Linked DNA regions of Homo sapiens. The protein of the gene in region 1 purifies or fractionates together with the protein of each later gene. This does not show direct contact. Each region holds a gene or a part of one and is shown in the gene's direction. Other genes may lie near its edges.

Region 1 (8,063 bases):
TGAGCCTATGTGTGTCTCTGCATGTGGGATGGGTATCCTGAATACAGCACACTGACGGGTCTTGACTCTTTATCCAATTTGCTAATCTGTGTCTTTTAATTGGAGAATTTAGCCCATTTACATTTGATGTTAATATTGTTATGTGTGAATTTGTTCTTGTCATTATGATTTTACCTGGTTATTTTGATCGTTAGTTGTTGCAGTTTCTTTCTAGCATTGATAGTCTTTACAATTTGGTATGTTTTTGCAGTGGCTGGTATCAGTTGTTCCTTTCCATGTTTAGTGCTTCCTTCAGGAGCTCTTATAAGGCAGTCCTGGTGGTGACAAAATCTCTCAGCGTTTGCTTGTTTGTAAAGGATTTTCTTTCTCCTTCACTTATGAAGCTTAGTTTGGCTGGATATGAAATTCTGGGTTGAAAATTCTTTTCTTTAAGAATGTTGAATATTGGCCCTCATCTCTTCTGGCTTGTAGAGTTTCTGGCGAGAGATCCACTGTTAGTCTGATGGGCTTCCCTTTGCGGGTAACCCGACCTTTCTCTCTGGCTGCCCAAAACATTTTTTCCTTCATTTCAACCTTGGTGAGTCTGACAATTAAGTGTCTTGGAGCTGCTCTTCTCGAGGAGTATCTTTGTAGCATTCTCTGTATTTCCCAAATTTGAATGTTGGTATGCCTTGCTAGGTTGGGGAAGTTCTCCTGCATAATATCCTGCAGAGCGTTTTCCAACTTGGTTCCTTTTTCCCCCTTCACTTTCATGTACACCAATCAAATGTAGATTTGGTCTTTTCACATAGTCCCATGTTTCTTGGAGGCTTTGTTCGTTTCTTTTTACTCTTTTTCCTCTAAACTTCTCTTGTCACTTCATTTCATTAACTTGATCTTCAATCACTGATACCCTTTCTTCCACTTGATAGAATCAGCTACTGTAGCTTGAGCATACGTCACGTAGTTCTTGTGCCATGGTTTTCAGCTCCATCAGGTCATTTTAGGTCTTCTCTATGCTGTTTATTCTAGTTAGCCTTTTGTCTAATCTTTTTTCACTGTTTTTAGCTTCTTTGTGATGGGTTTGAACATCTTCCTTTAGCTCAGACAAGTTTTTTATTACCAATCATCTGAAGCCTTCTTCTCTCAACTCGTCAAAGTCATTCCCCGTCCAGCTTTGTTCCATTGCTGGTGAGTAGCTGCGTTCCTTTGGAGGAGAAGAGGCGCTCTGATTTTTAGAATTTTCAGCTTTTCTGCTCTGGTTCCCCCCATCTTTGTGGTTTTATCTACCTTCGGTCTTTGATGATGGTGATGTACAGATGGGGTTTTGGTGTGGATGTCCTTTCCGTTTGTTAGTATTCCTTCTAACAGTCAGGACCCTCAGCTGCAGGTCTGTTGGAGTTTGCTGGAGGTCCACTCCAGACCCTGTTTGCCTGAGTATCACCAGCAGAGGCTGCTGAACAGAAAATATTGCAGAATGGCCATTGTTGCTGCCTGATCCTTCCCTGGAAACTTCATCTCAGAGGTGCACCCGGCTGGATGAGGTGTCAGTCGGCCCCTACTGGGAGTTGCCTCCCAGTTAGGCTACTCGGGGTCAGGGACCCATTTGAGGAGGCAGTCTGTCCATTCTCAGATCTCAAACTCTGTGCTGGTAGAACCACTACTCTCTTCAAAGCTGTCAGAAGGGGACATTTAAGTCTGCAGAAGTGTCTGCTGCCTTTTGTTCAGCTATGCCCTGCCCCCAGGGGTGGAGTCTACAGAGGCAGGCAGGCCTGGTTGAACTGAGGTGGGCTCCATCTAGTTTGAGCTTCCTGGCCACTTTGTTTACCTATTCAAGCCTCAGCAATGGAGGATGCCCCTCCCCCAGCCTCGCTGCTGCCTTGCAGTTGGATCTCAGACTGCTGTGTTATCAGTAAGCGAGGCTCCGTGCACGCCTCTTATTTTTAATGTTCGGTTTGCTTCATGAGTCCTTGTGTCGAATACTATTCTGGGCAATGATTATTCATTAATACAAATAAACATTAGATTATAGGAAGAGTAAGCTTCCCATGATAACCGAAGTTATTATCAGATCCTAAAAGCAATAATTAAAAACCCTGTTCCCAGGTAGAATTGTAAAGTGGATGACTCCTGCATCCAGCATTCTCCCATTCATTTTTAGAGCCATCCAACTCCCTCAGTCACTTCACTGCCATTCCCTTTCCCAAGCCCCGGCTGCCGTCTAGATAGTCAGAGCTTCTTGGCCCATTGCAAGCACTCATCATGATGTTTAGCCACCAACCCAGCATTGTTTGGCATCTTTCTAAATTTCTTGGTTTTCACTCAAACCTCCCATAATCCAAATGATGACTGCTATAGAATTCCATCAGAAGACTTATGAAGACAAGTGATTTGACAGCAAAGAGTCAGAATTCTTAGGTTACAGTGGCAAAATCCTGTAGGCTCCATGTCTGTCATATATTGCTATTTGTTCAGTCTTACTTTGATCTACTCACTAAACAATTCATCCTCTATAGAACTGAGGGTGCAAAGGTGGTTGGTAGTGGGTTAAAGAGGAAAGTCAAATCAGAAATGAAGAAGAGGTTGAAGAGACCACATGTAGATTAAAAATAAACTTTTTTGGGGCATTGATTTTCATTTAGTCACAATATTTTTATTTTCAAATAACATTAAAGAAAAACAAACAGTCTTTATGTTTTTTAAAGGAGAAGCAGAGAAATATTACACTATTCCTAGTCAAAAGTAATGTTAGCAGGAATGTCTAGACTATTTCTATGTGTTTATTTCTCTTTATTTTAGTTAAATGATAGATTTACTCACTTGCAACTAACTCTTGCTATATTTCTCCCATTTCAAAATTCTTAAACTATTGTAGCTAAAAATTGTATCTATTTTACTTAGCTGCCTTTGGTAGCATTTGAAAGTGAATGCAAAATTTCTGGACAAAATAGAAACAGGTACATGGGCTAATATAGGAATATACACAATACTGTTAACTGTCCCAAGATTTTTCATTGATTATGTCTTCCATGGTGAGATTTCAGGCATAAAATTGGTTTGGGTTAGTACAAAGTCTGGCCCAACATATGCTTACTTGTAGTTCTTCCTAATAAGTCAAACAAGCTCACATTTATGGTGCTGAATATATTCTAGATTCATTGTATCTGTAGTTGCTAAAAATTTAGTTCCATGCCTTAGGATGGTATTAGAATGTCCATGATAAGAAAAATAAGTGCAGCAAAATAAAAGAAATGCCACGCCTATCTTTCTGTATTATTTTTTCCACTGGAGAAGGACAGATTTTACTCATTAAAACTACAAAAGTCTGAGACCAACTGCTCCATATTCTTTTGTGTTCGTTAAATGTTGTTATTTGGAGGTGACTTAATTAGACTAAAGCTAGAAGAGAAAACAATAGAATGTCAAAGATGCTTTTCAAGTTGTAAACTAATGTTTTAAGTTATAAACTACTTGATACTATTTTCTTAATTAAAAAGATATTTCTGAATCGAAAAGATCAAAGCTTCTGAGTAAATTTAGAAAGCATTTTTTTGTCATTTACAGAAAAGGGCTTTAAGAGCCTATGTTCCTTTGGCTTTAAGAGCTCTTCACTGTGACTTCAAAGTAATCATTTTCAGATTAATAAACTGGAGCTCGTCTTTGGAATTATCAGTTTTTCTTTTATTACAGAATCTGAGGTTAGCCAGAATCCATCTGCAGAACATGAGGCAGAAGGGAGAAACACCTAACAAGGTGAGGCCTTCCTTAACTATTTTAACACAAGCAATTAACCATTTATACTCACTTAAAAGCAGACAGCTGGGATGATGGTGTCTGCTAAAAAAAAAAAGTGTAATGAAATGTTCTTTAGTTTTTTGATCTTTAGTAAAATTTCATCTTCGTATAAAATTTTATTAACCATTCCACTAACTTGTTACTTCTCCACTCCACCTCCCCACTCCCTTTAGAATCCTTAGTTTGAAGACATAATTCTTTAAATGATCTGTCTCAGGGAGGGGGGATCTTGTTACTTTTAAGGACTGCAAATAGCATTATAAACTTTGTTTTTATTTTTAAATACGAATATCGACTGAAGCTCTCAAATCAATCAATATTGTTGCCAAATTTTGTAAAACGCACTGTCTTAGCTCTCTAACGATAGAGTTCTAATATAAATGTAAAAACCAACCTATCAACATGTTTTCAAAAATACTTTTTGTAAAGAACAGTACAATTTTGTGGTGTCCAAATATTCCTTTCTTTCTTACAAAATATTATTGGATCTGTCCAGTTCATAAATATTCCTGCCCTCTCTTCCTCCCTCCCTGCCTCTCTCTCCCTGCAGTTTTTTTGATGTTTGTTCTTTTCTTTCCATTTTCTAGTTATTAATTGGTTCAATGGATGACCTTTGTGCGACACTGTTATACCTTATCAGCCTCGCCAGGGCCCCCGCGCCGCCCAATCCCAGCAACTCTGGTTCTCCTGTGACCCCAAGCCTTCCAGATCCCTGGGTTTCCCCCCACGGGACTGTCACATTCTTCCCCGCCGGAGACGCCAGTCGCGGGGCCTCCTCCCTGGGGTGTGAGCAGGTCGGCGCGCCACACTTCTCTAGGTGGCCGGACGCGCGCCCAGGGAGGAGCTGGCGGCGGGGCCCAGGCTGTTCCGGCTGCGGCACGCCAGGGGATGTGGTTAGCCCTGAGCCTGGAGGCCGAAGGTGGGCAGGCAACACTCCCACCATGTTTCGGAGGAGAATACACTAGGCTAGCCTAACGACACTCGGAGTGCGAGCTGCGGCTGGGGTAGGGGCACCCCTTTCCAGCGGGCGCGTGGGTCACCAAGGAGCAGTTCTCCGGGACCCGTTGCGTCAGAGGGACTGGGCGGGGCTGGGCGGGGCAGGACGGGGGCGGCGCTCAGGAACCCTGGAACCCGCTGGCCCTGAGGCCACGGACCGAGACGTGGTGCTGAGCCCCTGCGCGGTTTCTGGTGCGTAGAGACTGTAAATCGCTGCGCTTCTCAGTCATCATCATCCCAGCTTTTCCCGGCTCGAATTCAGCCTCCAACTCAAGCTCGCGGGAAAGACTACCTGAGAGGAGAAAAGCTTCTGTCCCTGGACCTTCTTCTGAGGGTGGTGAGGTTTGTTTAGGGTCGCAGAAGCAGGGAGGACTGACTCAGCCCTCACAGAGAAGAGGTCTGGAAAGTCCTGGGGAACTCGCAGGGCACGGGCCGCTGTCGCGGTTGGGAGGCGAGGGCGCAGCGCTGGGGTTGTAGATTCCAAGACCCCTGAGGGTGGCTGTGTTGGTTTCTCGCAGGAGTCGGAGGCTCCCTGCTTTCCAGCCGCCCAGTGACCCAAGCTTAATCTTCAGCACCACTTGGGGCGACCTTTTCGGTGCAAACCTACGATTCTGTTTCTCAGGATTCCTCCCCATCCCGCTTCGCCCCGGAAAAGCTGACAAGAACTTCAGGTGTAAGCCCTGAGTAGTGAGGATCTGCGGTCTCCGTGGAGAGCTGTGCCTGGAAGAGAAGGACGCTGGTGGGGGCTGAGATCAGAGCTGTCTTCTGGCCCAGTTGCCCCCATGCTTCTGTCATGGCTAACAGTTCTAGGGGCTGGAATGGTCGTCCTGCACTTCTTGCAGAAACTCCTGTTCCCTTACTTTTGGGATGACTTCTGGTTCGTGTTGAAGGTGGTGCTCATTATAATTCGGCTGAAGAAGTATGAAAAGAGAGGGGAGCTGGTGACTGTGCTGGATAAATTCTTGAGTCATGCCAAAAGACAACCTCGGAAACCTTTCATCATCTATGAGGGAGACATCTACACCTATCAGGATGTAGACAAAAGGAGCAGCAGAGTGGCCCATGTCTTCCTGAACCATTCCTCTCTGAAAAAGGGGGACACGGTGGCTCTGCTGATGAGCAATGAGCCGGACTTCGTTCACGTGTGGTTCGGCCTCGCCAAGCTGGGCTGCGTGGTGGCCTTTCTCAACACCAACATTCGCTCCAACTCCCTCCTGAATTGCATCCGCGCCTGTGGGCCCAGAGCCCTAGTGGTGGGCGCAGGTAGAGTATGGGGTGTGGTCTGCCTATACAGAATGGCAGCCCACCTGCTTTCATACCCTTTTTTTTTTCTTTAGGATAATTCGTAACTAATATTTTGGGTGAGTGAAGTGTGCATGTTAAGAGTACAAAATAGTTTTATGATTCTATGCTGGTTTAACAACTGTCTCCTCCCTTCAGGCACGTAGTTTCAGAAAACTTTTATGAAATCTCTGCTTCCTACCATTTTGAGACAGGGACAGTTTTACTGCTATTGGTTCCTTCAGTGAGTGCAAGAACACACAGAGAACTTGGTCACTTCTAAATTTTATCAGCTCTGACAAAATGGTGAATAGGAAAGTTATCTGACTTCATTGTGACACGTCTACCTACCTCTAATTGTACTTTATCAGGGATGACTACATTTGCAGAAGAGATATGTTTAAAGGAAGGTACCTGAATTCCTTTCTTCATGTCTGCTCTTATTTTATACTGTCTGCAAGCTAGGACTTGCCTAGCAAGGTTGCGCTCCCACCTGTGAGCCAGAACGTGGGCTCTTGGCAGACTCTAGGAGCCTTTCTGTTTCTTCTTCTTATCCTTCCATGCATCCTTTTCTTTTTTTGACTAAGTTCTACCCTTCCTCCTCCCCCTGCCTTGGAGTTAGGACATCTTAGGCTACACGTATTTTCACTGAACTGTAAAGAAAAGCCTGGGGTTTAGTGGCTAATTAGTAAAGAAGCTAGGAAGATGGGTTGCTTAATGAAATAGAAGTGAAATATGAAAAATGATACTTATTTGGTGTAATCTAAATGGTTTATGCAGAGTCTTCTTCAATGGGGAAGGAAGGTGCGGAAAGAGGAAGATCCATTGCAAGGACCATAATGAAAATATTTAAGTATTTTAGATTAATAGATACATACCAATACCTTGTATAAAGTTTTTAAACTCACAGAACAATATGGAAAAATATATTTATACCCTGGTGATCTCTAAGGTATAGAACTTTTCAAATAACCTTTATGATATAATATTTGTATATCAAACCAAAGTGAGTTAGGCAGTATATGGAAAATGGGCTAGCCCTTCAAGGCTATCACTGTTCCTAGTTCTTTTCAGTTCAACTTGTGGTCTGATAAAGTGGCAAATGTATACTTTTTCTTATTTATTATTATTTTTTATTATTATACTTTAAGTTCTAGAGTACATGTGCACAAAGTGCAGGTTTGTTATGTATGTATACATGTGCCATGTTAGTGTGCTGCACCCATTAACTCATCATTTACATTAGGTATTCCTCCTAATGCTATCCCTCCCCACTCCCCCCACCCCACGACAGGCCCTGGTGTGTGATGTTCCCCACCCTGTGTCCAAGTATTCTCATTTTTCAGTTCCCACCTATGAGTGAGAACATGTGGTGTTTGGTTTTCTGTCCTTGTGATAGTTTGCTCAGAATGATGGTTTCCAGCTTCATCCATGTCCCTACAAAGGACATGAACTCATCCTTTTTTATGGCTGCATGGTATTCCATGGTGCATATGTGCCTCATTTTCTTAATCAAGTCTATCATTGATGGACATTTGGGTTGGCTCCAAGTCTTTGCTATTGAGAAAAGTGCCGCAATAAACATACATGTGTGTGTGTCTTTATAGAGGCATGATTTAGAATCCTTTGGGTATATACCCGGTAATGGGATGGCTGGGTCAAATGGTATTTCTAGTTCTAGATCCTTGAGGAATCACCACACCGTCTTCCACAATGGTTGAACTAATTTACACTCCCACCAACAGTGTCAAAGTGTTCCTATTTCTCCACATCCTCTCCCGCACCTATTGTTTCCTGACTTTTTAATGATCGCCATTCTAACTGGTGTGAGATGGTATCTCATTGTGGTTTTGATTTGCATTTCTCTGATGGCCAGTGATGATGAGCATTTTTTCATGTGTCTGTTGGCTACATAAATGTCTTCTTTGGAGAAGTGTCTGTTCATATCCTTTGCCCACTTTTTGATGGGGTTGTTTGATTTTTTTCTTGTAAATTTCTTTAAGTTCTTTGTA
Region 2 (7,000 bases), on another chromosome or scaffold:
AAGTGATCCACCTGCCTTGGTCTCCCAATGTGCTGTGTACTCAGTGGACCTTTTCAGTCTGGAAACTCATGTTTCTAGGACATTTTCCTGAATGCTTTGATATTTTTCTTTTTCTTTTTTACTCTTTTTTCTCTTTTTGGAAATCCTGGCTGCTGGTACTTTGGGAACCAAGTAGGAGAAGAGGACCAAGGGCTCAATCTTTAATATTTCCTTTACTGAATCACCTTTGTGCCTGGGGGTTCCAGTCCAGAGACCTACTGTTTTATTGTCTGCTAGGGTAAACCTCCAGTCCTCCACCTGGAGGAACAGGGGAGGAGTAGGTCACTGGTGCAGCAGAGGGGTAAGGAATATGGGACTCTGACTGCTTCTTAAGTAGATTTTCAACCCACCTTCACCCCCACTTCCAGAGGTACCTGGTGCCATCAGTTCCTGAGTCCTGAGTACTTTGTAGTTTCTGCAGTGCAGCTTGGTAGCTTTTGTGCTTTCCCTCTACTGGTTTAGAATTCAGTTTCCTTAAGCCTGATACATCAGTTACTTGTTCCTTTGTTTTCCAGCTTTCACAATGTGTTCTGTGTTCTTCTCATTTTCTTTGTCTTTATGGGAGAGAGAGTGGGGATTGAGTTAAATGTATGTGTTCAATCTGCCTCCTTTAACTAAAAGTCCTTGGATCCCTTTCATGTGCATTTTTTTCCATGGTTGAGATCCTGCTGTTCTTCCAGTTTGATATTCAGTTTTTTCACTTAATTTTATAACAAACAATTTCACCGTCATTAAAAATCATTTCTGAATGTTATTTCAATAGCTAAAGTTGCATCATATGGACATGCCACTATTTATACTGTTTGCTTTATTAGTCTGCTATTGTTGAGTATATAGACTGTTTTTTGGTTTTTATAAATAATGCAAAAATAAATAAAGTCATAATATTTTTCTGATAATTCTGATTATTCATTAGGCTAAAGCACGATTTGGCAAACTAGGACTCAGAGTCCACCCCTGGCCCCTTGGCTTGCCATGAACTAAAAATGTTCCATACTTTTTTTTTTTTTTTTTTTAAAGTGACAGGGTCTTACTCTGTTCAGGCTGGAGTGTACTAGCTGTGATCATAGCATAGTGCAATCTTAGACTCCTGGGCTCAAGCAATTCTCCCACTTCTGCCTCCCGAGTAGGTAGAACTATAGGCATGTACCACCATGCCCAGCTAATTTTTAAAAAATTTTTTGTAGAGAGAGAGTCTTGCTATATTGCCCAGGCTGGTCTTGAACTCCTGGTCTTAAGCAATCCTCTCACCTCGGTCTCCCATAGTGCTGGGATTGCAGGAGTGAGCCACCTCCCCAGAGGTTTCTTACATTTTTCAAGAATTGTAATAAAATGAAGAAGAATGTGCAGTAGACCACATGTGGCCTGCAACACCTAAAATATTTATCTGGCCCTTTACAAAATATTTTGCTGACCCCTGGGCTAGAGATTTAGGTAAATACTAAACCATTAAGTAATAATTATAGTATACTCCAGAAAGTTAAAGTATACCTCATGGCTTGCTAGTTTGGATAACTGGTATGTGTGTGACTGCATACTTTTTTTTTTTTTTTAATGCACTTACAAATATATACATGTGTGTCTAGATATTTAGTTTTTTTTTTTTTTTAAATAGGCTTCCTCTATACTCATAGAACCACCACTTAAAACAATATAGAACAGACATCCTACCGTGTTTCTTACATGAGGATCTATCTCATTCTTTTTAATGGCTGCATAGTATTCAATAGTATGGATTTACCATAATTCATGTAATCATTACCAAATTGAGGATATTTGAGTTATCTCCAGCTTTTCACAATTAAAGTAATGCTGTAGTTAACATGCTTTTACATTTATCCCTGCACATTTGTTCAAGTATTTTTGATAATTTTCCAGAAGAAAATTGTTGTGTCAAAGTATATGTACAAAATACATGCTAATTTGCTTTCTAATTTACCCTGAGAGTACCCCTTTTCCATATCTTTTCTAATACTAGATATTATTTGTCTAACTTTTAGCAATTTCTTAATTTTAATTTCCTAATCATTAGTGATGTTGAACGTCTTTTCATGTGCTTACTAGCCATTTACAGTTCTGTAGATTGCCTGTTATAGACATTTCTAAGGCTCTTGACAAGTACAACCATATTTTTTCAAAAAAACAGTTGCTCTCATTTGTATTTCCCCAGGATTGTACAAGAGTGTCTTTGTCACTACATATAAAATTTTGGAAACATTTTGATCTCAAAACTTCTCTCTTTTACTAAACGGTGTTTTGTTAGGCAATTTTCGTTCTGCTCTCAATGATGTGACAGCTGCCAGAAAGCTAAAACCCTGCCACCTCAAAGCAATAATAAGAGGTAAGTCTTGTGGAACTACAGTATGACATTTAAAGCTTTGATATGAAGGTGCTAGGATACTAATAAAGTCATCTTATTTTTGCAGTCTGGGTATTAAGTTCCTGTTCCTTATCAACAGCAACATGCCACTTTTAAAAGAATTCCTCAGAGAGTGACTTAACCCTTTATGTAATAATAATTTGTAGAGAACTAGAAGCCCCTCATTTTAAATTAATAAAAAATAAAATTAATTAAAACAAAGCAGTTGCAAAGCCATATTCTGATTTTTTTTCCAAATTAGCTGATTGAAAGGCAAGGTCTTCAAATGCCATGTTAATGTTAATTAAAAGATAAGTTATGGGACCTTTGCTGATGACTTTGGTGCTGAGATGTTCTCAGATTATGTTTTCTCTTGTAGTCTGACCTTTCTATGTAATAACAGTGCTTTTATTACTTTTATACTTCACCTTTTCTTTGAGAAGCTCATAGGTGCTTTGCAAACTTTAATTTATTCATCACATATTAATCTTCCCTGCATCCCCATGGACCAGCTTAAAATGCTTTTTCAAAATTATGCCTCTTTAAATGTTCATGGTTAAGGGCAGTAGGAAGATCCATGTCCCTCAGCTGTAGGAAAAGAAGGTACTGAACAAAGATTGGCTGATAAATTGAATCTAGGTAATCCTGTGGAATTTGCCTCAGGCTAGAAGTGTGTAATCCTTGATTCAGTTGTTGGTTTAATTTACAATGTGACCTTGGCAAGACACCCACTTTGAATATCAGTTTGCTCATCTCTAGAAGATGGGGTTAGAATCTGTTGGCATCTAAGCCCTTACAATGCTTATATTTTGAAATTCTGTGGAAAACCTAAAGAGGCTAACTGGAGAAAAATGTACATGATAACATGAAATTTTTTTTTTTTTTTTTGATGGGGGAGAGGCAGCTTAAACTGGTAGCCATAAAGAACAAAATTAGGAGACACCTAATGTTTTTGGCCTTGCCACTGCCTTGATGAATAGCTGAAGCAAAGTCTGCTTTTTCCCTCCATTGAAAAAATCATCTGGGATGGACTTTATTCTTCCTGTTTGCAGATGAGGAACCTAAAGCTTGGATATGCTTGGTCCTTTGTCTAAGGTCTAGCTGGTAAATGACACAGCCAGATTTCTAGCCTTGATCTATCTGGTTTGCCACTAAGTTATAGCTTTTCCTACTTTAAGAGCCCTTAATACCAGGGAGACTTACAGGAGTTTTGAACTAAATGGACCTTAGGGATTTTTCTGATTTAGGACACAAAAAGTATTCTCCCTTGTCTGGGGACTGCAGTATAAGGGGCATTATCCTCCATTTTGCCTTCAGGGTACTGGCTGGTAGTTGGTGGGGGATGGGAGATCTTGCCCAAAGCAGGTTCTTTCCATGCATGTTTTTCTTGAATCCTAAGGGTTCTGGGTTCTGCAGGTGCCTTATGCCATCTGGAACTGAAACACTTTGCCGAGGCCGTGAACTGGTGTGATGAGGGACTGCAAATAGATGCCAAAGAGAAGAAGCTTCTGGAAATGAGGGCTAAAGCAGACAAGCTGAAGGTTGGTGACTGTCAGCAACCAATTAGCATTTGCTAATTAGCAGTAATTAGCATTCCCAAGATTGTGTCTCTCAAGTCATTGTAAACTTTTTAAAAACAAAACCCAAAACTAGTCCCTACTCCTGGAACTCTGTGGAGCACACAGACAAGTAAACAGTTATAGTGTGATATAGAGGTAAGCAAGGATAGATGGTGTGTATAGTGGTAGTACAGTCATGTGCCACATAACAGTGTTTCATTCAATGATGGAACTCCGTATATATTACAGTGGTCCCATAAGATTATGATGCCATATTTTAACTGTGCTTTTTCTGTGTTTAGATGTGTTTAGCTACACAGATACTTACCATTGTGTTACAGTTGCCTACAGGATTCAGTGTAGTTATGTGCTTTACAGGTTTGTAGCTTGGGTGCAATAGGCTGTACCATATAATCTAGGTATGTAGCAGGCTATACCATCTCAGTTTGTGTAAGTACATTCCATGATGCTTGTACAACAATGATTGTGCATTTTTCAGAATGTATCCCCATCAATCTGAATGGAGACACGTCTTGTCCAGGGCAAAATTAGATACCATTACTATATACAGTCACATAACAATGTCACGTGTTCAGGGCCAGCTAAAGACTCCCAGTGTATATTATATACTCCCATTCCGTAGTATAAGCCATGAAGAGAGACCTAAACCAGGAATTAAGAGACCTTAAGACTAGTTCTGGCTTTCTATTAACAGGCATGTAAGACAGTATTACACAGTGGCTAAGAGCTTAGACTCTGGAGCCACTGCCTGAATTTGAAGACTCCCTTCATGACAGTTATGTGACTTGGACAACTTGCTGATCTCTTTGTGCTTTAGCTACCTCACTAGTAGAAGGAGAATTAAAATATTTCCTACCTTATAGGGCTATTATATAGTTTAGATGGTTTAACGTAAGGAATGTTTTTAAATAACACCTGGAGCACACACACAGTAGTGCTATTTAAATGTTGGATATTATTTTGGGTAGTGATGGTATTCTGTTATTATTACTGTTTTTAATCATCATTTTAGCTGTTATGTGCCAGAAATGTCATATATCATCAGCAATGACCAGAGGTCATTCTGGTCATATGAAATGGTAGAAAAGGTAGATCTCTATGGACCCACATGGCTCAATAACAGAATTCTGAGCCTAGGTAATTGGGTATGGCCAGAATTTCTGAAAGTGGTATATACAGGAATGAATGTCTAGAGGGCTACTGGGGACAGTCACAATTAAAGGGAGATTTCAAGGCCCAGAAGCCTGATATTAGGTCTAGGTGACATTACTTGCTGAATAGCTGAAGTATTCCCCTGTGTCTGAGTACAAGCTGATTCTGGGTTCCTATGTGCTTGGCATATAGCCAACAGACTTGTGGCTATGTTAATATCAGACAGAGTAGACTTCAAGGCAGCAAGTGTTACCAGAGATGAAGTGAAGCTTTTTTTCTTTTTTTTTTTTCATGAGACAGAGTCTTGCTCTGTTGCCCAGGCTGGAGTGCAGTGGCATGATCATGGCTTCCTGCAGCCTTGACCTCCTGGGATCAACTGATCCTCCTGCCTCAATCTCCTGAGTAGCTGGAACTACAGGCGTGCACCACCATGCCAGGCTAATTTTTTTTTTTAATTTGTAAATTTGTAGAGTTGGGGTTTCACTATGTTGCCCAGGCTGGTCTCAAACTCCTGGGCTTTAATCCTCCTGCCTTAGCCTTCCAAAGTGCTAGAATTACAGGCATGAGCCACTGTGCCCAGCCACTGAAGCATTTTTTTAAATGATAAAAGGACCAGCTTATAAGAATATTTAACAATTCTAAATGTGTAGGCACCTACTAACAGCTTCAAAATGCATGATGCAAAACTTGACAACTCAAAGAAGGAAGAGACAAATCCACAAATAGGTGGAAATATCAACTATCTCAGTAATTAATAAAACCAGTATTTAAAAAATAGAGAGGGGTAGTGTCAATCACAGTGGTGGACTAAAGACCTTTACAATTTTTCTCCTCCATAAAATCAATGAGGAAACTGGCAAAAATGATCAGAATTCACTTTTCTAGGACTCTGGAAATGAACCAGAGGTTTGCAGCAATCTGGAGCATGTTTATTCAAGAAAAATGTTGGAACCTCAGTAAGAACAGCAAGCTTTGTGACATTTTAACTTGCTCTATTCTCATCTCCCTCCTCTCCAGTTCCACAGTAGCCTTGAAAGCCAGTAGCCCACAGTCATGGTGAAAATGAGCAGCCTGCAGCCACCAGAGGAGGCAGAACAGGGTTGGAGCTCTTTCAAAGCCTTTTCCCAGAGAACTGTGATGATTTGACCATCTGGTAGATCCCTGGAAGACCCCGCTCACAGGGCTATTTTTATATGACCTGACTTGGAGCTTACCCAGTATAAAAAGCTTTTTTACATAGGGCCAGAAAATAGGGGGAATGAAAAGGTGGGAGAGAATTTGTCAAAAAACAATTAGAGGCAATTGTTAAAGATTGTAGAAGCTGAAGCAGTGGATAACACTGGAGCAAACAATAGGTGCATCATAAAGCTTAAAAGGAAAAACTGGGGAATGAAATTCTGTGGGGGCTCCGAAAAGCTCCAGTATTCCTGAAGATCTAGATGGTCACACATGTGCCCAGGGCTATACATGTGCTCAGGAAAGACCTGAGAAGACCCTAAGCTCTCAGAGTCTCTGCAAGAAGGAAGTGAAGGCTAAGGTAGAATTGTAAACTGCTTGGGTGAATGCTAAAAATGTGCTTCAACATGTACACAAAGCCTCTTGACAAAGATTGGAAGACTTACTGTCTGGTCATTAGCTAGAGGAAGCCTAGATGTGGGACTTACTAGACAAAGACTTTAAACCAGCTAATTTAAATATCTTCTCAGAATGAAAGGAAATAGTGTCTAAAGAACTAAAAAAAGTATGAGAATGATGTCTTTCCAAATAGAGAATATCAACAAAGAGAAGTTACTAAAAAGAACTTAACAGAAGTTCTGTAGTTGAAAAGTACAATAACTGAAATGAAAAATTCACTAGAGGGGCTCAACAG
Region 3 (7,089 bases), about 12 Mb from region 1:
TTGCCTTCTTGAGTGTGCATGACCAAGACTCTGGAAAGAATGGTCAAGTTGTCTGTTACACACGTGATAATTTACCTTTTAAATTAGAAAAGTCAATAGGTAATTATTATAGATTAGTGACAAGGAAATATTTGGACCGAGAAAATGTCTCTATCTACAATATCACAGTGATGGCCTCAGATCTAGGAACACCACCTCTGTCCACTGAAACTCAAATCGCTCTGCACGTGGCAGACATTAACGACAACCCTCCTACTTTCCCTCATGCCTCCTACTCAGCGTATATCCTAGAGAACAACCTGAGAGGAGCCTCCATCTTTTCCTTGACTGCACACGACCCCGACAGCCAGGAGAATGCCCAGGTCACTTACTCTGTGACCGAGGACACGCTGCAGGGGGCGCCCCTGTCCTCGTATATCTCCATCAACTCTGACACCGGTGTCCTGTATGCGCTGCAATCTTTCGACTATGAGCAGATCCGAGACCTGCAGCTACTGGTAACAGCCAGCGACAGCGGGGACCCGCCCCTCAGCAGCAACATGTCACTGAGCCTGTTCGTGCTGGACCAGAATGACAACGCGCCCGAGATCCTGTACCCCGCCCTCCCCACAGACGGTTCCACTGGCGTGGAGCTGGCGCCCCGCTCCGCAGAGCGTGGCTACCTGGTGACCAAGGTGGTGGCGGTGGACAGAGACTCGGGCCAGAACGCCTGGCTGTCCTACCGCCTGCTCAAGGCCAGCGAGCCGGGACTCTTCTCGGTGGGTCTGCACACGGGCGAGGTGCGCACGGCGCGAGCCCTGCTGGACAGAGATGCGCTCAAGCAGAGCCTCGTGGTGGCCGTCCAGGACCATGGCCAGCCCCCTCTCTCCGCCACTGTCACGCTCACCGTAGCCGTGGCTGACAGCATCCCCGAAGTCCTGACCGAGTTGGGCAGTCTGAAGCCTTCGGTCGACCCGAACGATTCGAGCCTTACACTCTATCTCGTGGTGGCAGTGGCTGCCATCTCCTGTGTCTTCCTCGCCTTTGTCGCTGTGCTTCTGGGGCTCAGGCTGAGGCGCTGGCACAAGTCACGCCTGCTCCAGGATTCCGGTGGCAGATTGGTAGGCGTGCCTGCCTCACATTTTGTGGGTGTTGAGGAGGTACAGGCTTTCCTGCAGACCTATTCCCAGGAAGTCTCCCTCACCGCCGACTCGCGGAAGAGTCACCTGATCTTTCCCCAGCCCAACTACGCAGACATGCTCATCAGTCAGGAGGGCTGTGAGAAAAATGATTCTTTGTTAACATCCGTAGATTTTCATGAATATAAGAATGAAGCTGATCATGGTCAGGTGAGTTTAGTTCTTTGCTTGCTTTTAATTTCCAGATGAATTTTATTTGGCATAAATTATGTTTTGAAAAACATTGTGAAGATAGTTGAAAATAATTTTTAAGGTGTATCACAGAGTTTTGGGTTTATTTTGGTGGTGTTACTATAAAATTGAACTCTAATAGTCATAGGTTATTGTTTCATTTGCTTTTAAACGACTTGGAAAAGATTGTTCAACCATTTTAAGCCTTCCAGTATTTTATTCCTATTATCACTCATTCACTTAAGAAGTAGCTACCCGTCCATACTGGTAATTTTGCTATTGTTTGTGTGTGTGTGTGTGTGTGTGTGTGTGTGTGTGTGTGTGTGTGTGTGTATCCCAAACTAGAACTTCAGAAAATTATCAAGAAGTCTAAAGCCTTGTTATTAGCTTAGCAAAAGTAAAATATATCTCAGAATTTTTAGGGTTATGTTTAGCATTTGAACCTGTAACTAGGCTCTTGTAGATTTCTTCACTTTAAACCTCTTTTCTGAGCCCTGTTTCTGTACCAGTGCCCTTCAAAACTTTAATACTTCTTACCATCCTTCAAAACATGAACAAACTTTAAAGATGGATCTTGGTGGGAGATGAGACTGGTTACTAAATATTAAGTATGTGAGTCAGTGGTCACCTGGGCTCCATGCCCATGGAGACATGAAATCTAAAGCCTAGAATGTCCATTGCTCCCCCAAACAAAAAACAAAAGCAAAAACATTAGATCTGAATTAAAATGTAATTTTAAACTGTTGAAAGTGACTTTTGTAAAATATGTAAGAACATATTTCAATACAATTCCAATTAGCTGTTTCGGTTGTGCATTGATGTGAAGTGGTGAGAATGTTGATATTAAGAACCAATGTTTCAGGTACACAAGTTCTAAATAAGCTGATCAATTCAATTAAAGTTATTCAGTCTTGGCTGGACACAGTGCCTCATGTCTGAAATCCCAGCACTTTGGGAGGCTGGGGCAGGAGGACCGCTTGAGCCCCGGGGGTTTGAAACTGCAGTGAGCTATGATCATGCCACTGCACTCCAGCCTAGGTGGCAGAACTAGACCCTGTCTCTAAAAAAACTATTATTAGGCCGGGTGCGGTGGCTCACGCCTGTAATCCCAGCACTTTGGGAGACTGAGGTGGGTGGATCACCTGAGGTCAGGAGTTCAAGATCAGCCTGGCAAACATGGTGAAACCCCGTCTCTACTAAAAACTACAAAAATTAGCCAGGCATGGTGGCATGCGCCTGTGGTCCCAGCTACTCGGGAGGCTGAGGCAGAAGAATCACTTGAACCCGGGAGGTGGAGGTTGCAGTGAGCCTCGATCCTGTCACTGCACTCCAGCCTGGGCAACAGGGTGAGACTCCGTCTCAAAAAAAAAAAAAACTAATATTAATAGTAAAAACTCGGTATAGGCTATCCATTATTGTATTCCTGCATACCTTCTTGTAGCATTTGAATAAAGCTAATACCTGAATTGATTGTTGTAAGGTAGAAGTAGATGACCCAATAAATGTTTGTTATTAATGAAAAGGACATTTCCTAAGGATTGTGTAGTGTTCTACTGTATGGTGCATATTCAGTGGAGTGGGAGTTAACTTCATAGTTTGTGTACCATTTGGATGCACATTTGAGAGGACAACATATTATTGGCACTTTGCAATTTTAAAAACTCGGATGAAAGTTGCCCTGGTAGGAAAGAAAATCCTTACTCTCCCTAAAAATGTTGGCTAGTTGTTTTTATTAATCTGACAAATGGACTAAAGAAGGTTGACCAATGTCCACAAATTTATGTAAATGAACTTATGAGCTTCATTTATCCAATTCCAAAGTCATTTCAGATAGGATAATAATGCAATCCACTAGAATATCCCTTTGTACCTTGTATTGCAGAATAGATAAGCATTTCCCCAATAACTCTTAAGAATGAATTTATGTACTGTAAAAGATATGACATAAGAGAAGTATTTTGAGATATGAAGAAGAGCAACGTAGTAGGGTATATCATTTCTTAGCTACATCATATGGGCAGTATACTTGAATGAATATTTCCTGAAGTAGAAGAGTAAAGAAAAATTATTTTTATAAAGAATGTTAATATAGTCAGGAAGAGGAGATGTTTGGGGATTGGTATAAAATTGCCACAACTTTACAAAATAGTTTTAAATAGTATAGATTTCCCTAATATGTGTAATATAAAACACTAGAAATATTGGGGAGTTGGAAATCATAGAAATGAACAGAAGAATGATAAAATTGTTTCCATAGCTAATAAAAAATGAATTTTTGAAATCAGTATAGTATGAAGGCTCTGAGAGCAAGAACTGTATCATATTAATTATTATATTGCCAGTGACAAGGGCAATACTTAGTTCTAGCTAAGAGTTCAAGGTATGTTTGCAGAATGGTGAAAGAATGGACCAATGTATGCAGGTTTGTATAAAAACCCAACGTGATATTTCTAACAATTTGGAAAACAGAGAAAGATACCTTAAAGAAGTTGTTATAATTTTTTATTAAGTATATGGACGTAAAAACTTGGCTTGTTAAGTTAGGCACACAAAAACAATTACTGCACTGGTTAACTTGAAGCCGCAGAGGCTGTAGTTTCCTAGTGCTGACTCTGGGCGCCGCTGTTGGCCAAAGTGCAGAGCTTGGCGCTCCAGATCTCCTCGCGCAGCCGCAGCGCGCTTTCCAGGGCAGCCCCAGCTCAGACTCCCCAGCGCCGGCCTTTACACCGCTTCCTCCTCGGAAAAAGAATCGTTTCCTAAACTGGAACTGGAACTAAAGCCCGTTCGGAGATCCAAAAATCTACAATACAGAGGTTATTTGTAACCTGGCGTCTCCAGGCTGGTGAGCAAGCTGAGGAGAGCAAGAGGGATGGGGAGCGGCGCCGGGGAGCTGGGCCGGGCTGAGAGGCTGCCAGTGCTCTTTCTCTTCCTGCTGTCTTTGTTCTGCCCGGCGCTCTGTGAGCAGATCCGCTACAGGATTCCCGAGGAAATGCCCAAGGGCTCCGTAGTGGGGAACCTCGCCACGGACCTGGGGTTCAGCGTCCAGGAGTTACCGACTCGAAAACTGCGCGTCAGTTCGGAGAAGCCTTACTTCACCGTGAGCGCAGAGAGCGGGGAGTTGCTTGTGAGCAGCAGGCTAGACAGGGAGGAGATATGCGGGAAGAAGCCAGCTTGTGCTCTGGAATTTGAGGCTGTTGCTGAAAATCCACTGAACTTTTATCACGTGAATGTGGAGATCGAGGACATTAATGACCACACGCCAAAATTCACGCAAAATTCCTTTGAGCTGCAAATAAGTGAGTCTGCACAGCCTGGCACAAGATTTATACTAGAAGTAGCAGAAGATGCAGATATTGGCTTAAACTCTCTGCAGAAGTATAAACTCTCTCTTAACCCAAGTTTCTCATTAATAATTAAGGAGAAACAGGATGGTAGTAAATACCCGGAACTGGCACTGGAGAAAACCTTAGACCGGGAACAACAGAGTTACCATCGTTTAGTCCTGACTGCCTTGGACGGTGGACATCCACCCCTAAGCGGCACCACTGAGCTCCGGATCCAGGTAACCGACGCCAATGATAATCCCCCGGTATTCAACCGAGACGTGTACAGAGTCAGCCTTCGGGAAAACGTGCCACCAGGCACCACTGTGTTGCAAGTGTCAGCCACTGACCAAGACGAGGGCATCAACTCAGAAATTACTTATTCCTTCTACAGAACCGGGCAAATCTTTAGTCTGAATTCAAAGAGCGGAGAAATTACCACTCAAAAGAAACTGGATTTTGAAGAGACCAAGGAATATTCAATGGTTGTAGAAGGGAGGGATGGTGGTGGACTGGTTGCACAATGTACAGTTGAAATTAATATTCAAGATGAAAATGACAATAGCCCAGAAGTTACATTCCATTCTCTACTTGAAATGATTCTGGAAAACGCGGTGCCTGGAACACTAATTGCTTTGATCAAAATACATGACCAAGATTCTGGGGAAAATGGGGAGGTTAATTGTCAATTACAAGGCGAAGTCCCTTTTAAGATTATCTCTTCATCCAAAAATTCGTATAAGTTGGTAACAGATGGAACCCTAGACCGAGAGCAAACCCCGGAGTACAATGTCACCATCACAGCCACAGACAGGGGCAAGCCGCCCCTCTCCTCCAGCATAAGCGTCATCCTACATATCAGAGACGTCAACGATAACGCTCCGGTTTTCCACCAGGCGTCCTACTTAGTCAGTGTACCCGAAAACAACCCTCCTGGGGCCTCCATCGCGCAAGTCTGCGCCTCGGACCTGGACTTGGGGTTGAACGGCCAAGTCTCCTACTCTATCATGGCCAGCGACCTAGAGCCTCTGGCACTGGCCTCTTACGTGTCCATGAGCGCGCAAAGTGGGGTGGTGTTCGCGCAGCGCGCCTTTGACTACGAGCAGCTGCGCACCTTCGAACTCACACTACAGGCCCGCGACCAGGGCTCGCCTGCGCTCAGCGCAAACGTGAGCCTGCGCGTGTTGGTGGGCGACCGAAACGACAACGCACCGCGGGTGCTGTACCCCGCGCTGGGTCCCGACGGCTCTGCGCTCTTCGATATGGTGCCGCGCGCTGCAGAGCCCGGCTACCTGGTGACCAAGGTAGTGGCCGTGGACGCAGACTCAGGACACAACGCCTGGCTGTCCTACCACGTGCTGCAGGCTAGCGAGCCCGGGCTCTTCAGCCTGGGGCTGCGCACAGGAGAGGTGCGCACAGCGCGTGCCTTGGGCGACAGGGACGCGGCCCGCCAGCGCCTGCTGGTTGCTGTGCGTGATGGTGGACAGCCGCCACTCTCCGCCACCGCCACGCTGCACTTGGTCTTTGCTGACAGCTTGCAGGAGGTGCTGCCGGATATCACTGACCGCCCTGTACCCTCTGACCCCCAGGCTGAGCTGCAGTTTTACCTAGTGGTGGCCTTGGCCTTGATCTCAGTGCTCTTCCTCCTGGCCGTGATTCTGGCCGTTGCCTTGCGCCTGCGACGCTCCTCCAGCCCTGCCGCCTGGAGCTGCTTCCAACCTGGTCTCTGTGTCAAGTCTGGACCTGTGGTTCCCCCCAACTACAGTCAGGGGACTTTGCCTTATTCCTACAACCTATGTGTTGCACATACAGGAAAGACGGAGTTTAATTTCCTAAAATGTAGTGAGCAATTGAGTTCAGGACAAGACATACTTTGTGGTGATTCATCTGGGGCCTTATTTCCACTTTGTAATTCCAGCGAGTCGACTTCCCATCCTGAGTTGGTGAGTTTCATTTATGTCTATTCTTTTTCATTACCCACCCAATTTTCTGTATTTACATGAAACTATCGTACATTTTCAAGTCCAATGAGTTGTCTTAGGGAAGTCAGAGCTGCTCAGAAAGCTGTCCTACCATTCTTTAAGAGGAGCAGTAAATTGTGAGTTTTTATGTCGCATAAAAGAAGTAGCCTTATAGATTTACAAAGTAGTGAGAGTTTGCTCTTAGCTTCCTCTCTAGCAAAAACATTTGGTGCGTTTTTTTGTCCTCTTTCTCAAAGCTAATGAATTTTACCTATTCGTTGTCTCATTCTTTAACATGTTTATATTTTATTGTATGTAGATAAACCATTAAATTTAATGTATGTAATCATTTAATTCATCTTTTAAAGCAAAGAAACTGCTAGTAGATGTCTTTCTTCACTGATTTCACTGGTAGTTTTCATCTCTTTCTTATGTTCCTCATATATGCTTTCTTAT

Evidence for each region.
Region 2: the proteins of SLC27A6 (region 1) and TTC4 purify together in Homo sapiens (affinity purification with mass spectrometry; 3 studies listed by BioGRID and IntAct, with this or other methods). This does not show direct contact.
Region 3: the proteins of SLC27A6 (region 1) and PCDHGB5 purify together in Homo sapiens (affinity purification with mass spectrometry; 2 studies listed by BioGRID and IntAct, with this or other methods). This does not show direct contact.

What each region holds. Positions count from the first base shown.
Region 1 is NC_000005.10:128,960,586-128,968,648, forward strand, and holds the start of SLC27A6 (long-chain fatty acid transport protein 6), read left to right. Parts: upstream 1-4,902; 5' UTR 4,903-5,552; coding exon 5,553-6,033; intron 6,034-8,063. UniProt on the Homo sapiens protein: Mediates the import of long-chain fatty acids (LCFA) into the cell by facilitating their transport at the plasma membrane.
Region 2 is NC_000001.11:54,718,861-54,725,860, forward strand, and holds part of TTC4 (tetratricopeptide repeat protein 4), read left to right. Parts: intron 1-2,302; coding exon 2,303-2,380; intron 2,381-3,814; coding exon 3,815-3,939; intron 3,940-7,000.
Region 3 is NC_000005.10:141,393,910-141,400,998, forward strand, and holds the start of PCDHGB5 (protocadherin gamma-B5 isoform 1 precursor), read left to right. Parts: upstream 1-4,037; 5' UTR 4,038-4,218; coding exon 4,219-6,615; coding exon of another isoform or gene 6,616-6,675; intron 6,676-7,089. Other genes in the region: PCDHGA8 (protocadherin gamma-A8 isoform 1 precursor), read left to right, coding at 1-1,328. UniProt on the Homo sapiens protein: Potential calcium-dependent cell-adhesion protein. May be involved in the establishment and maintenance of specific neuronal connections in the brain.